Linked DNA regions of Homo sapiens: region 2 is linked to region 1. The links come from fine-mapping of genetic effects on gene expression. Tissue or cell type: pancreas. Region 1 holds a variant in brackets; the other region holds the start of a gene. All regions are shown on one strand. Distances are between the middles of the regions.

Region 1 (8,000 bases):
TGAGCAATATAACTGATGTCTTTTTTTTTTTTTTTTGAGACAGGGTCGCACTCTGTCACCCAGGCTGGAGTGCAGTGGCGGTAATCATGGCTGACTGCAGCCTCCACTTCCCAGGCTCAAGTAATCCTCCCACCTCAGCCTCTGGAGTAGCTGGGACTACAGGTGCATGCCACCACACCCGGCTACTTTTTATTTTTTATTTTTTATAGGGATGAGGTCTCTCTATGTTGCCCATGCTGGTCTTGAACTGCTGGGCTCAAGCAATTATCCCACCTTGGCCTCTCAACATGTTGTGATTATAGGCGTGAGCCACGACACCCAGTCGTGAGTGATGTCTTTATAAGAAGAGGAGATGGGACACAGACACGCACAGAAGGAAGAGCACATAAAGACACCGGAAGAAGACAGCCATCTATCTACAAGCCAAAGCGAAGCCTCAGGAGAAACCAACACTGCGGATACCTTGATATTACATTTGGAATAAAATGTATTGGGATAAAAACCCCAATACATTTCTGTTGTTTAAGCCACCCAGTCTAGGGCGCTTTGTTATGGCAAAGCACTCAGGCAAGCCAATATGCCACGTCTCTGCTGCTCTGCTAGGTCTCGGTGACTCTCTCTGACATACAGCATGTGCTCGGTGATACACCAGAAGAATAGAAATCACACTTAGAATCCAGCTCCTTCCTGGTCTGGCCCATTACAGGCCTTTCCAACTTCACATGCCACTCCCCCGTCACTGGCCACTGTTCCATGGGAAAATACACCCAGCTTGTTCCTACTACTGACCCTGTACTTGCCGAGCCCTCTGCATGGGTCTGTTTTTTTCCTGCCTTGGTCTTGCTTGTTACTGAGGTTTGGCAGAAACACCAGCTCCTCAGAGAGGACTTTTGGGCACCCAGTCCCCAAAACTCATTTCCCGTCACATCACTGCATGTGTTCATGGTGTGTAACTCCATCTTTCCTTGCTCACTTATTCATTTACCCAATTAGTTCATCTATCCACATCAGATGTGTGAGTTTTGTGAGAGCAGAAATCGTGTCAGTTGGATGTTTTCTGTTGCTGCTGTAACAAAGTAATGCAAATTTTGTGGCTTGAAACAATACATACATATATATATATATATACACACATAATTTTTTTTTTTGAAGTGGAGTTTCACTCCTGTTGCTCAGGCTGGAGTGCAATGGCGAAATCTCAGCTCACTGCAAGCTCTCTACCTCCTGGGTTCAAGCGATTCTCCTACCTCAGCCTCTTGAGTAGCTGGGATTACAGGCATGCCCCATCATGCCTGGCTAATTGTATTTTTAGTAGAGACGGGGTTTCTCTATGTTGGTCAGTCTGGTCTCAAACTCCCGACCTAAGGTGATCCACCTGCCTCAGCCTCCCAAAGTGCTGGGATTACAGGCATGCGCCACCGCGCCCCCAGCCAAAACAATACAGATATATTATCTTATAGTTGTGTAGGTTGGAAGTGCAACACAGGTGTAAGTTGCATTCCTTTCTGGAAGCTTCTAGGGAAGAATCTTTTTTTTTTTTTCTTTTTTCAGCTTCTAGAGGCTGCCTACATTTCTTGGCTCGTGGCTTTTTGCTCCGTCCTCCAAGCCATTGCATCTCTCTCTGACCATAGCCGGGAAAGTTTCTTTGCCTTCATCCCCACATGATTACATTGGACCCACTTGCATAATCCAGAATAATCTCCCTATTCCAAGGTCCTTAGCCTTAATCGCATCTCACAATCCCTTTTGCCATGTAAGATTACATATTCACTAATTCCAGGGATTAAGACATGGACATCTTTGGGGCGCATTATTCTGACCACCATATCTGTTTTTTCCCTTTATATGTCTAGTGTGGAGAACAGACCAGGAAATTAGTAGGTATTCATTGACTTTGCTGGGTAAATGAAAAGTTACCATTTATTGTGCAGATATGAGGCGCTGGGCAGATGCAAGGTGCTCTATGTGTGTTTTCTCATTTGCTCTTTACCATAACCCTCGGGGGTAGAGTTTACCCCCATTTTACAGCCCCATTTACTAAGGCTCACAGAGGTGACATGACTTACCCAGGGCCATCCAGCTAGTAAGTAGGAGAGCTGGGATTTGAACTTTTACCTTTCTGCCTCCAAAACCCAAAGTCTATATGCCCCTCTTTCGCAGCTCAGGGAGGATGTCTCGAGCCCGGGCGTGTTGTACCCACAGGTATCTTACTTACATCTGCTCACTGTGCCATGTCAGCACCGCCTGTTCCAAAGGCAGATTCAATGTTGCTTAGGCCGGCCAGGCACGGTGGCTCACACCTGTAATCCCAGCACTTTGGGAGGCCGAGGTGGGTGGATCACTTGAGGTCAGGAATTTGAGACCAGCCTGGCCAACATGGTGAAACCCTGTCTCCACTAAAAATACAAAAATTAGCCAGGCGTGGTGGCACATGCCTGCAATCCCAGCTACTCTGGAGGCTGAGGCAGGACAATCTCTTGAACCCGGGATGCAGAGGTTGCAGTGAGCCGAGATTGCACCATTGCACTCCAGCCTGGGCAGTAAGAGCAAAACTCCATCTCATAAAAAATAAAAATTAAAAAAAAGATTGCTTAAGGCCTGTCTGCCTCTCTTTCAAAGGGGAAATCCCTCAGCTTCTTTAAATAAATTCAATCCTGCCAACTAGAGATGAGGGTTGATTAGATGAGATTGGGGGAAGAAGCCCTCCTTCTCAATGAGTGGTCCAGAAACCAGCAGCATGGGCACCCCATGGGAGTGGTCAGAAATGCCGACACCGAGGGCCCTGAACTGCTGAGTCAGGCTCTTCTAATGATCCCTAAGTGGTCTGCACACACATCATGCCTTGGAGAAGCCCTGCTGTGAGGCACCCACGCAGATCCAGACACTCACTGACCATGGTGGGAGGTGGCACCTATTTTATTTTTATGATGAGAGGGAACCTCAAACTCTACTGTGATGTAAGTGGTCTCAAAGGCCCTTTGAAGTCACCATTTTATCTAAATCAGAAATAGGAAAAAAATAAGAAATGGCCAGCTTAGAAAGACTCAAATTCTTTTGCGGGGGGAAAAACCAGGAAGAAAGAAAAGAAAAATACATTGTTTCCTTGGCCATCTGTGTGAAGAAATAACAAAACCACCGTTGACATACCAGCAGGAAAGAACACTGGAGAGCTTCACTTGACAGAATTATTACAAACGCCTCTTCCTGGTTCAGGGGGAAAAAAAATTCCAAATAGGTTTGTGATATTTTTTTCCCTAGCATGCTTGCAACTCCCAGTAGAGCCAATAACCAGTTTTCAAAACCTTTTGATTCTACTCATCCCCTGGTTAATAATTTCCAGTTTACCCAGCAGGCTACGTAACATCCCCTTTCCTGGGAAAGAATTTCTGTGCCCCGGCTGGCAGTGAACTGGTCCCCTTAGCAGCTGACCTCCTCCTCCAGCCCTG[T/C]GGCTGCCTCCTCTCCAACAGGGACCCTCCTGGTGGGTATCCGGAACAGTGCCTTAGTGTTCCGCAAAGGGGAGAGGGAAAAAGAGAGGGCTGTCTCCCAGAAGGGTGAGTCTCTTCTTTAATCATCTGGAGCTGAGAAGAATTTTCTCCCTGTTTCCTGGGAAATAGCTGATAAAGGACATTTTGTCTGCTGCTGTTTATGTATACCTAGGCCGAACAAGTCTCAAAACTCTACCCTCTCCTGCCCCCTCCGGAGCTGGTACTTTGAAAACATAGGACAATAATGAAAGCCAAGAGCAGGCAGCCTGATATGGGCCTGGCACCCCATCTCCTGTTTCCTCCTGCCCGCTGCTGCAGCCGGCTTTATGCCAGCTGCAGCCACCAGGGACAGGTTGGCTTCTCCACCCTTGATGGCCCCGAGAAATATTTCTTTCAGGGCATGGCAGAAGGGGACTTTGGGGAAGGTGGGACCCTCCCTGCAGCCAATAGCACGGGCCCCGTCCCTCCCCCCATGCAAATCTTTGGCCAGCAGCCTTGGTATCACCAAACCTTGCCGAGATAGGGAGTGCCATGAAGGGCTCAGTGAGTTTCTGGCAATCCTCTCCTCTGTTTATCTGAATGGGCCCAAAGGCTGCAAAACAAACCGGCAAACACCAGGGTGTTCCTGAGAGTATAGCTGCACTTCCTGTTTACAGGCTCAGGGTGAGAAGCCCCTGAGACCCATTCTGCCTGTGTCAATTTCTTTCTGCTTCCTCTGAGATCCGTGATGTGGGAGGGCAAAGGGTTTCCCTCCCGCCGCCTGGAAAAATAATATGCAGGCCGGGAACATGAGCTTGCCTGTGAAGGCTGCTCAAAACGACACACTTGCAATTTGGGGTTTGTGACTAAGGTTGATTCGATCCCAGGTCTTCTGGTCCCTCTGGGAGCATCTCAGACCCCGTGAGACAACCCACTTTGGGACTCAAGGGTGGTAGGGAGTGGGGAATGGGAAGGGCACCTGTAGAGGCATAAATTGCTGGGCCCTGCCACCCCACCCATCCTCACACCACTCTCGCCCCACCCAACCTCATCCCACCCTACTCATCACCCCCACCCTCACCCCCACCGTCACCCCACTCCACTTGCTGTGTGTCCCTTGCTTCCCATGCTTCCCTGTCCTGGACCACAGTGAAGCAGCTGGGAATTCCAAGCACAGGGCTTCCTACCTTCAGCACCAGTGGTGACACCAGAGGTGGATTCCAAGAATACCTGAATGACCTACAACACATTCTGTCCAGGCAGGAGGGGTGGTGGCACTGCCTCCAGGAGATGGCCGAGGTATCCGGGGGTTAGGACCCTCTAGTTTGTTGCAGGGATGTCACAGAGCCTTGCTACTGAAAGTGTGTCCAGGGACCAGCAGTATTGTCCTCACCTGGGAGATGGTTAGAAACATGGTCTCACACCCTGTCCCAGACCCACTGCATGTGAACCTGCAGTTTAGCAGACGCCGCAGGTGACTCCTGCACACATTAAAGTTGGAGAAGCGCTGCTTTGGAGGACCCGTCCCTCTGTCCTCATTATGAGGATGCCTGCGCTGACTTTGGACAGCTTGTGCTTTTTAAAATCTCGTGGGCATAAATGACTCTTTGTGACTGATCTTGTTTCTCTCTTTGCTAAGAAAAGCAGGTTTAATCTGATGTAAGTGTCAGCTTATTTGGCCTCCGATATGTGGCATGCCACATATCGGAGACCAAATAAGTATGTGCATAAGTGAAGGATTTCATAGCTAAATTCGATGTGCCCGACACCTGAAAATTCAAACACCAGAAGGGCCAGGCAGGTGACAAAGATGAACGAAGTGGGCTGGGTGGGCCAGTGAGGACTGGACAGCCAGTGACCTGGTGGAAGCGGCAGCAGCTACTCCAACCCAGCCCATTCTTGTCATTCAGGGACCAGGCTCAGGGTTGCCAGATCCCAATATCTTCAAGAGAAGCCTGAATTTGAATTTTTATGAAATCACCCAACATTGAAATATTGGCAATTAATTAAAACATTAAAAAAAAAAACCCAAAGGCCAGGCGCTGTGGCCCCTGCCTGTAATCCCGGCACTTTGGGAGGCCGAGGCAGGTGGATCACTTGAGGTCAGGAGTTCCAGGCCAGCCTGGCCAACATGGTGAAACTTGTCTCTACTAAAAATACAAAAATGAGCTGGGCTTGGTGGTGCACGCCTGTAGTCCCAACTACTCGGGAAGCTGAGGCAGGAGAATCGCTTGAACCCGGGAGGCGGAGGTTGCAGTGAGCCGAGATCACCCCACTTTACTCCAGCCTGGGTGACAGCCTAAGCCTGTGTCTCAAAAAAACAAAAAACCAAAAAAAAAAAAAAAAAAAAAGGAAAAGAAAAACAAAAAAAATCCCCTCCTATGTATGACCCAGGCTTTATCCTGAGACTATGGATAAAACTGTGAACAAGACAGACACAGTCCCTGCCCTCAAAGAGTATGCAAGCTGGAAAATGGGACAGAGAGACCAGGAAGGTGGGAATGGCATTTCCTCAGGGAGACCTGCCTGTGCAAAGGCCCTGAGGTGCAAACAGCACATTGTAGATGGGGAGCTACAACCAGGTCAGTGCTGGGGAGCTGAGTCATGATTGAAGGAGGGGTGGAAGATAAGGATGAAAAGGGAGGAAGTGGCAGGTGATAATGGCATGTACTGTACATGCAGTTAAGGAGTTTGAACTAGGTCCTGCAGGCCTGGAAGGGTCATGAGTATGAGGATGACATGGCTGGAACTCAGTTTTCCTCAATTCACACCAGCTAATGAGAGGGGGATGGATTTAATGAGTGGGGAGTTGGAAAAGTATTAGAAGTCCAGACAGCAGTCGGGGGAGACTTGGGCAGTGGCCCAGGAACAAGGTGGTGAAGGCCTGAACTGGGGCACTGTGCAGGAATGGGAGGCAGTTGTGCATTTGAGGGCTGCACAGGAGTTAAAATCAGCAGGATGTTACCTACTTGATGGGGACCATTGGGGAGGTGGGGGCAGCCAGAGTTTCTGGCCTGGATGCCTGATGGACAAGGATTGCGGCGGTTGGAGCGTCTTGGCGGGGGAGATGACATGCTCGGTTCTGGGCAGACTGGACTTGGGGCTTCCTTGAGCCCTCTCTGGAAATGAGATGCAGACAGCAAGGTACTGCAGTCTTACTCAGTGAGGGGGCAAGGGCCAAGCTGAAAACCAGGACATTCTGAAACACATTTCTTTTTAGTAATTTGCCCCAGCTTTGTGGCTTCTCCACCCTGTTCTCTTCTCCCTGTGAGTTCTTTGTTTTTGTGAGTTGTCATATTACAGTCCATGGATTTTTGGGCCAGCCTGTAAATGGGGATAACAGTAGGTTCCTCCTCGCAGTGCTAGTGAGATTAAATGAGATAATACACTAAAAGCACACAGCACGGTGTCTGGCTGTAGGAAGATCCCATGATCACAACACCACATGTAATGTTAGTGTCATCATCATTAGCTGTGATTATTATTGTGATTATTAACATTAGTTACCATTATTGTTGTAACTACGCACGGATATGACCTACGAGGCCTCCTGCCACATGTGGTCCTTAGTTGTGGCCTCTTTCCCTGCCAACCTCAGGCCCGCTTGTATCTGTGGGAGGCAGTGGATAGCAGTGTTTATGAGCATGGCCTGTGAAATCACAGCCTGCCTGGGTTCAAATGCCAGCTCCACTTCTTACTGTGAGAGTGACCTCGGCCAAGTCACTTCGTGCTTCTGAGCCTCAGGTAGTTTCCCCATCTGAGGAAGGGGAAGATAAATGTATCTTGCTGTGAAGATAAAATGAGATAAATTGTCAAAGTACTCAGTGCACTGCCTGGCAGATACCAGCTGCTCCTTTATCATGTGCTCTTACTCTCCAGGACACCATCACCAACCCATCAGGCTGGCATGCACTCTCAAATCTACTGCCCCTAGCAACAGGATGCAGTTCATGTTCACTAAAATGACTTATGAGCTGCTTGCAGCGGGCTGAGTGTTGACGCTGCTCCCTGCCACTGGAAAAAAAGATATGCCCACATCCAGATCTCAGGAACTCATGGATGTGACCTCATTTGGAAAAGGGGTCTTTGCAGACGTAATTAAGTTAAGGATCTTGAGATGCAGTCATCTTGGATTATCTGTGTGGTCCCTAAATCCAATGACAAGTGTCCTTACAATACACGCAGAGAGGAGAAGCCTGACAGGAGAAGCAGAGATAATGACTGGAGACAGGGATTGGAGAGATGCAGCCACAAGCCAAGGGATGCTAACAAGCACCAGAAGCTGGAGGAGGAAGGAAGGATTTTCCCCCGGAGCCTGCAAAGGGAGTGCAGCCCCGCCCACACTTTGACTTTGGACTTCTGGTCTCTGGAATGCTTCGATAAGAAATGGTTGTTTGAAGCTACCCAGTTTGTGGTAGTTTGTCACAGCAGCCACAGCAAACAAATCCAGTGCCCTCCACCCTTTTCACCCTGAAACCGCATGAGGACTGGGTGGAGTAGGCAGGCAGTCTTGGCCATCCCCATTTTAGAGAGGAG
Region 2 (8,000 bases), 56 kb after region 1:
ACAGTTTCTTCCAACTTAGACAATTGAGTATTTCTTTGAACATATGATTTCAAAGGATTCTTTAAAACACTTTAACCATTCATTTATTAGTAGGGAACATACTCATATTGTTCCACATTTGAAAAGTGAAACGAGTCAATCATGACAAACCTCCCTTCCACCCTGTCTCTCAGGCACACACTCCTCCTCCTCCCTCAAGGCAGCCAATGCTTTCAGTTTCATGCGTCATCTTGCAGTGATGTTTTATGCAAATATAAATTTTATATATAATACATTCTTCCTTTTGTCCAGTTTTGCACTAATTGTAGCATGCTCAACATAGTATCCTGATCCGTATTTTTCTCTGAGATTTTTTTCATGGTGATATGTAAAGAGCCTTCTTGATGACAACGTAGAACTCCACTCTATGATTGTACCACCAGGATAGTCCCCTACTGATGGACAGTTAGGTTATTTCTAATTTATAAATAATCTTGTAATTAAGTTTGCATATATCACTTCATGCAGGGGTAGATCTATTTGCAGGATAAACTCATAGGAATAGAACTTCTGGGTGAAAGGGTTATACTATTCTAGCATAACTGGCTGTGAACCGCTGGGCCACTCCACATGTCCTTCTGTCTGAGTCCCTCCCTAGTCCCACCCAATGATGCAGACCTGGGCGACAGTTCTGAGAGGTGCTGAGCCCAGCCATGTGGCCCCTGGCATGGTTCCATGCCCCTTGGAATATGGCAGTGCCCAGAGTGTTCTCCTCAGATTCTTGGCTGGAGACGTCTCAGGGAGGCCATCCTGTGACCCCCATGCCCGTGGTCCCACATCAAGGATCATTGTTTCACTGCCGCTCTTCAACCACCAGCCCAGCCCCATTCCTACCCCCTCCTCCAGCTCTATGACTTCACCCCTCACTCCCAGAACAGAGGCAAAGCCCAACGAAGGCCAAGGCAGCACTGTGATAGCCAGAACAATGGCCCCTCCAAAGCCATCCATGTCCCAATCCACACAATCTGTGACTATGTTGCCTTACATAGCAAAAGAGACTTTAAGATATGAAGTCAAGGATCTCATGATGGAGAGATTATTCTGCATTATTTGGCTGAGCCCAGGGTAATCGCTAGGGTCCTTAAAAAATGGAGACGGGAGGCCGAAAGTGAGTCAGAGAGAGTCTGGAAGATGTTATGCTGCTGGCTTTGGAGTGGAGGGAAGGGTCGTGAACCAGGGTATATAGGTGGCTTCTAGAAACTGGGAAAAACAAAGCTATGGCTTCTCCCCTAAAGCCTCCAGGAGGAATGCAATCCTGCTGACACACTGGTTTTAGCCCAGTGAGACCTATTTTGGACTTCTGACCTTCAGAACTGGAAGGTAATAAATTTGTGTTGTTTTCAGCCACTAAGCTTATAGTAATCTTTTACAGCAGTAACAGGAGACTAATCCAACAGTCCCCGAACTGCCCCGCGTGGGAGTCCAGTGCTGCCTCTCTCCTGCCTCCCCTCTCTCAGAAGGCCTGGCTTCAAATCCTTGTTCTCCTTACCCACCGGGTGCTTTTGGGTACATGCAGCATTTCTTTGGGCCTCAGTTCTCTCATCTGCAAAACGCAGCACATGATCAAACTGTCACAAGGTTGCCGGGAGGTTAAATGAGATGATGCTTGTGAAGTCTCTTAGCAACTTTGCCTGCCATGAAATCGGTGCTTGATATTTTTAGATGTTGAGCATAATTCTGAAACTTTCAGTTGTCCTCCCAGAACCTACTCCTGCTCTGGCCCTGGCTAGGGCCCTAACTTCCCCTAAGGAGACAGCCCCTTCCTGCAGTGCTTACACCCAGCAGAGACCCTCAGGGAGGCAACTCTCTCCTTTCAACCGGCCCCAAGGAACCAGGGCCCTGAGGTGCTGTTCCCAGCAAAGAGGAAACTCAACCCAGGTTCAAATCCTTTTTTTTTTTTTTTCTGCCACTTCCCAGCTGGGTGGCATTGGGGGAGTTACTCCACCACTCCGAGCCTTGGTTTCCCCCTTTGTAGAATACCCACAGTGAGCCCTAGCCCAGGATGCTGGCCCAGGAGTGTGCTCATGGCTGGGCACGTAGCAGGTACTGGATAAACAGCTTCAGTGCACTGCCCTCTCAGCCAGGACCAGACCCCAGACTTGGTGGACCCTGGGGCTCATACAGTGTGTAGCGCCTCTTTAAGAAGGAGCCTCTGAACTTACAAACATACAATAGGGCTTCTGATGGGGCCTATGCCGGGGAGGCATCCTGAGGCCTGAATTCCATTCGCTTCTGCTTTCTGCTCTCAATCCCTCCTCCTCCGTAATGACCGGGCCAAACGTGTTTCAGAAACGTCCCTCCCAACTTGCCTGAATAAGCCCCAGGAGCCTGAGATTTTTACGAAATTGTCAGAGGCAGTGACCATCTTAGTCTCCCAGCAGGATCCAAGCTCCCTTGGTAAGTGAGCAAGACTTTTGATGGAACAAAAGCAAAATCTCTATCTGATGAGATTAGCTCCTTGGAAAAGAGCACACAGTTCATCTCTACCTTGCTTGGACAGTAGAGCTGCCAGATTAAAACAGCAACAACAACAGCTATATACATATGGATTCAATTTAATTTGAATTCCAGATAATGAATAATTCTTTAGTATAAGTATATACCAAATATTGCATGAGACATTTAACTGGATGTCCTGAATTTTATCTGGCAGCCCTGTCTGTCAGAGACACAGCAACATGGCTATTCAAATTCAGGATGTGTTTTGCAGAAGTGTTCCTGCTTTGAGAAGCAGCTGGGGGCCCTTGAACTTCAGCAGAATAACCAGTGGCAGAGGAAGGGATATGGGAAGCTGCCCCCGGGCAGGTTGGTGACGCTTTTAACAGCTGCACCCAGAGCCAGGTGGTCAGGGCCTGAACTGTAGCCTAAAATGAGCCTTGCAGCCACCCCCAGAGCAGGTGTTGGCACACCCATTTCTGCAGATGTGAAAGCCAGAGCGCAGCAAGAAAGGAACACCTTGTGAGCACCTACTATATGCTGGCATCTTACACGCATTAGCTCATAGCTAAGAGTGGGCAGATTTTGTAGCTGTTGCTATTAATGTAATGCAAGCATCAGAGAAGCATTATATGAAAAATAAGTCTTCTTCCCCACATTTGAGAGCGCTCAACCTCTTAAACCTCTCAGCGATTCCTCAGCCTCAGCACTATTGACATCTTGGGCCAAACTTTTTTCTTTTTTTTGTCGTGGGCTGACCTGTGCACTGTAGAATGTTTAGAAGCATTCCTGGCCTCTAGCCACTCAATGCCAGTGGCACCCCCCTCCCCGCCCCGTGACAACCAAGAAAATGACTCCAGACATTGCCAAATGTCCCGTAGGAGGCAAAAATCGCCCCTGCAAAACCACTGCTCTAGAATAATCACTGTTAATCATTTTGTGAAAGGGAAATAAATCTTGGGACCCCAAAATCACTAGGCCAAAGGGAAAAGTCAAGCTGGAAACCATGTTGGGCAAACCCACCACCCATTTCCTTCCTGAAGAAGATAGCTACAAAGATTTTTAAAAGCTACTTACCTTCCTCACAATTTTCCCACAAGGAAATTCCTTGTGGGCCTCAAGATCTTCACCCTAAATTAGTTCTGTTGAATTTCACCCTGGCAATGTAAACCAACAGCTGATCTTCACAGATGTGGGACAGAAAGTCATCCCTCTGCTCACCTGAAGCAAATGCCTATCCGATTGCTTCCTCTGCCCTATTGTTTATGTAAAAATGCTGATTCACTGAGCCAGACTAAGGCATAAGTGACTATTCTTCTACGCCCCCGCCCCCCACCACCGCATGTAAATTGTGTATTCAGTGAAAGGCTGATTAAAGACTCAAAAGAATGCGACTATTTGTCTCTTGTCTACCTATGACCTGGAAACCACCCCCTCCACCTTTCTGGACCAAACCAATGTACATCTTACACATATTGATTGATGTTTCATGTCTTCCTAAAACATATAAAAGCAAGCTGTATCTCAACTACCTTGGGGCCAAACAATTTTTGGCCTCAGGACCTCCTGAGGCTATGTCATGGGTGCGTCCTTAACCTTGGCAAAGTAAACTTTCTAAACTGATTAAGACTGTCTCAGATACTTTGGGTTCACACTTCCTTGAGAATATTTTTAGAATACTTCTAAGCACATGTGTATGCCTTTAAAAAACAAAACCAAACAACGACAACAAAAAGACAAGGCCAGGCTCAGTGGCTCACCCCTGTAATCCCAGCACTGTGGGATTACAGGATCTCTTTGAGCCCAGGAGTTTGAGACCCGCCTCAGCAACATGGTGAAACCCTATCTCTACTAAAAATACAAAAAACTAGTAAAGTGTGGTGGTAGACACCTGTAGTCCCAGCTGCTTGGGAGGATGACTTGAGCCTGGGAGGAGGAGGTTGCAGTGAACTGTGACTGAGCTACTGCACTCCAGCCTGGGTGACAGAGTGAGAGCTTGTCTCAAAAAAAAAGTTTTAAAGAGACAGGTTAATATATACACCTCTTTTATCACTTGCCTTTTTACTTATCAGTATACCTTGGACATCTTTCTGTACATCCCACTCATGAATCTGCATTTCTCCTTTGACAACTACGTGGCATTTCTTTGTGGGTATTGCTGCCATTGATGTAACCAGTTCCCTCACTACTGAGGCAGTTGAGTTGTTTCCAGTGTTTTGCTGTTACAAACAGTATTCCAGTCAGCATTCTCACACATGTATCTTGATATATCCATAGGATAAACCCCTAAAAGTGGAATCACTGGGCCATAGGTGTGTTCAGTTTTAATTTGATGTGCCACATTATATCCAAAATAGTTTGTACAATTTACTCCATTGCCGCTAACATCTTGATGAAAAGTACCAAACATTTAGTGAGCATTGACTGTATTTCATACACCATGTTAAGGGATTTACATGTGCTATCTTATTTAATTCTCACTATAATTCTACTGGTAGGAACTAATATTATTTCCATTTTACAAATGAAAGAACTTTGGCTTAGAGTGATTAAGAGTATTTTCTAGGCGGGGTGCGGTGGCTAATGCCTGTAATCCCAGCACTTTGGGAGGCCGAGGCAGGCGGATCACCAGGTCAGGAGATTGAGACCATCCTGGTCAACATGGTGAAACCTTGTCTCTACTAAAAATACAAAAAATTAGCCCAGCGTGGTGGCGGGCGCCTGTAGTCCCAGCTTCTTGGGAGGCTGAGGCAGGAGAATGGTGTGAACCCAGGAGGCAGAGCTTGTAGTGAGCCGAGATCGTGCCGCTGTGCTCCAGCCTGGGCGAGAGAGTGAGAGTCCATCTCAAAAAAAAAAAAAAAAAAAAAAGACTTTTCTAAGCTTGTCAGTGACAGTACCGGGATCCCAACTCAGAGCTCTCTCAGTCTAAAACCTGTTCTCTTCACCAATACATTTACTCTTCATAACAATTGTGTGAGCTGGGCCCCATTATTCCCATTTCCAATGGGATTACTGAGGCTCCAAGTAGTTAAAGTGACTTGCTCAGGGACATAGAACCCAATCACAAATCTGAGCCTGACTCCAGAATCTGTGTTCTTCTCTTGAGACTCCATGCCAACTCCTCCAGGAAGCTCTCTGGGATTACTCCAGCCATCCTTATCATCTAACCCCCAAGAGCAGCTCCTTGGGAGCCCTGGGAATCTGCAGCAGGCATTTCAACTCAGAGTGCATAGGTGTGTGGGTGTGTGGGATCTCACAGATGTTGAAGTCAGACAGACTAGATTAGAAACCCCTATGCCATCTACCTTCTGAAGTGAACTAGGGCAAGAGACCCTCCCTCTTGGGGTCTCAGTTATTTCATCATTATGATGCTCGTTATTACTGTTGCTATTAGTAACATGATAACAGTGATTACCCCTTATGGAGAGCCTTCTCTGTACCGCCTTTTACAGTGGGTAGTGTTTTAGTTTAGGTCCCTCAGGAAGCAGACACTGAGACAATGATTTGGGGCAAGGTTTTTATTTGGAAGGTGACCCCAGGCATCTTGGTGAGAGACTAGGGAAGTGACACAGGGAACAGAGTAAAACCATGGGATGGTGTGTGATGGACAGGTAATTGCCAAGGCTAGCTGGGCTCCAGCCTGCTGGGGACCTCTGAGAAGTCATGTGGCTCACGCCATGGAATACCCTACCCAGGCAATCCTCAGTGGTTGGGGGTCACTCTCGCTTTGTTGACTACAAGGCATTCCCACAGCCTCAGGTGGGGGCTGGGGTACTGTCTGCAGGTGGCCAGTAGCACAGCCTCCCTGCAGGCAATTTACAGGAGCCTCAGAATGAATTAATCACCACTCACATTGTGTTTACCACTGACCTTGTGTTTTAATTATCATTGACCTAATTGCCATTGACCTTGTGTTTTTTTCCTGTGAGTTCTGTCACTCTTTGGAGGGTCTATGCCTTGTACCTCACTTGGGTTTTTTGCAGTACCATGTGGGGCATGGCATAAACCTCCATAAATTGAGGCTGATGATTTGAATCCTTCAGTCATCAGCAAATATTTACTGTGTACCTACTATGTACTACGTGCTGTTTAAGAAATTAGTAGACTTCGGCCGGGCACGGTGGCTCACGCCTGTAATCCCAGCACTTTGGGAGGCTGAGGCGGGCGGATCACCAGGTCAGGAGATCGAGACCATCCTGGCTAACACGGTGAAACCCTGTCTCTACTAAAAATACAAAAATTAGCTGGGCATGATGGCGGGCGCCTGTAGTCCCAGCTACTCGGGAGGCTGAGGCAGGAGAATGGCATGAACCCGGGAGGTGGAGCTTGCAGTGAGCAGAGATTGTGCCACTGCACTCCAGCCTGGGTGACAGAGCAAGACTCCATCTCAAAAAAAAAAAAAAGAAGAAATTAGTAGACTTCATTTTTTTTTTTAGCAGTTTGAGGTTTATAGAAAAATGAGTGGAAAATACAGAGTTCTCATCTACTTCCAAAGCCCCCCAATCCCGTTACCACCTGTTATTAACATCTTGCATGGGTGTGCTATATTTGTTACAACTGATGAGCCAATACTGATACATTTTTATTAACTAAAGCCTCTAGTTTACATTACGGTTCCCTTTTTGTGTTGTACATTCTATGGCTTTGCACAAAGGCATCGTGATATGCATGATGCCACTATTCCCTGTGATCCACCTATTCAGCCCTCCCCGCTTCCCGCCCCTTCCCTCCAACCCATGGCTCCGGTGACTTTTTCAATGCTGGGAGTACAGCTAGGACAAAATAAAATTTCTGTCTTCAGGGAGCTAACATTTTAGTAGGGAGAGGGATAATATGTAAGCCAGCAAATAACACACCCAAGTCCAGGCGATGATAGAGGCTGTGAAGAGAATTTGTGTGGCTAGGGGAGGGGAGCTCTTGTTTAGACAGGATGGTCAGTGAAGGCCTCTTTGAGGAGATGACACTTGAGCAGAGCCTTCTCTGGCCGGAGACCCAAGGAGGCCAGGCTGTGGCTCCGAGGACTGTGCTGCTGAGAGGCTGTGAAAGATTCCATAGGCCACAGTGGGTGGACCCAGAAAGGCACGTTGACCCCTCACAGTAAAGGGAGGTGTCATGGCTGAACTGGGTCCCCCTGGCCTCAAATTCATATGTTGATGTCCTACCCCTAGTACCTCAAAATGTGACCACATTTACAGAGAGCATTTTTTTTTTTTTTAGACAAAGTCTCGCTCTGTCACTCAGTCTGGAGTGCAGTGGCACCATCTCAGCTCACTGCAACCTCTGCCTTCCAGGTTCAAGTGATTCTCATGCTCAGCCTCCTGAGTAGCTGGGATTACAGGTGGGCACCACCACACCCAGCTATTTTTTTTTTTTTTTTGTAATTTTTAGTAGAAATGGGGTTTCACCATGTTGGCCAGGCTTGTCTTGAACTCCTGGCCTCAAGTAATCCACCCACCTTGGTGTCCCAAAGTGCTGGGATTACAGGCACGAGCCACGGCACCCAGGCAGAAAGAAAGAGGGTAAGA

Alleles and levels. Positions count from the first base shown, and alleles are read on the strand shown. Sizes are in standard deviations (SD) of each study's normalised expression.
For the expression in pancreas of the gene that starts at base 3,742 in region 2, C is the high allele of the variant in region 1 and T is the other (large effect, 0.85 SD a copy in GTEx).

Evidence for each region. PIP is the estimated chance that this variant, and not a neighbour inherited with it, causes the effect.
Region 2: LINC01484 starts here. The variant in region 1 is fine-mapped to the expression of LINC01484 in pancreas (GTEx, PIP above 0.99). The same link has a PIP of 0.9 or more in liver and lung.

What each region holds. Positions count from the first base shown.
Region 1 is chr5:173,686,076-173,694,075 of GRCh38, forward strand. LINC01942 (long intergenic non-protein coding RNA 1942) reads left to right here and starts at 3,384. Exons shown (of 3, transcript NR_146727.1): 1 at 3,384-3,478. RefSeq lists enhancers at 4,020-4,099, 4,200-4,249. The variant T/C (reference allele first, on the strand shown) is at 3,447.
Region 2 is chr5:173,742,468-173,750,467 of GRCh38, forward strand. LINC01484 (long intergenic non-protein coding RNA 1484) reads right to left here and starts at 3,742. Exons shown (of 3, transcript NR_108027.1): 1 at 3,553-3,742. RefSeq lists enhancers at 1,515-1,564, 1,695-1,864.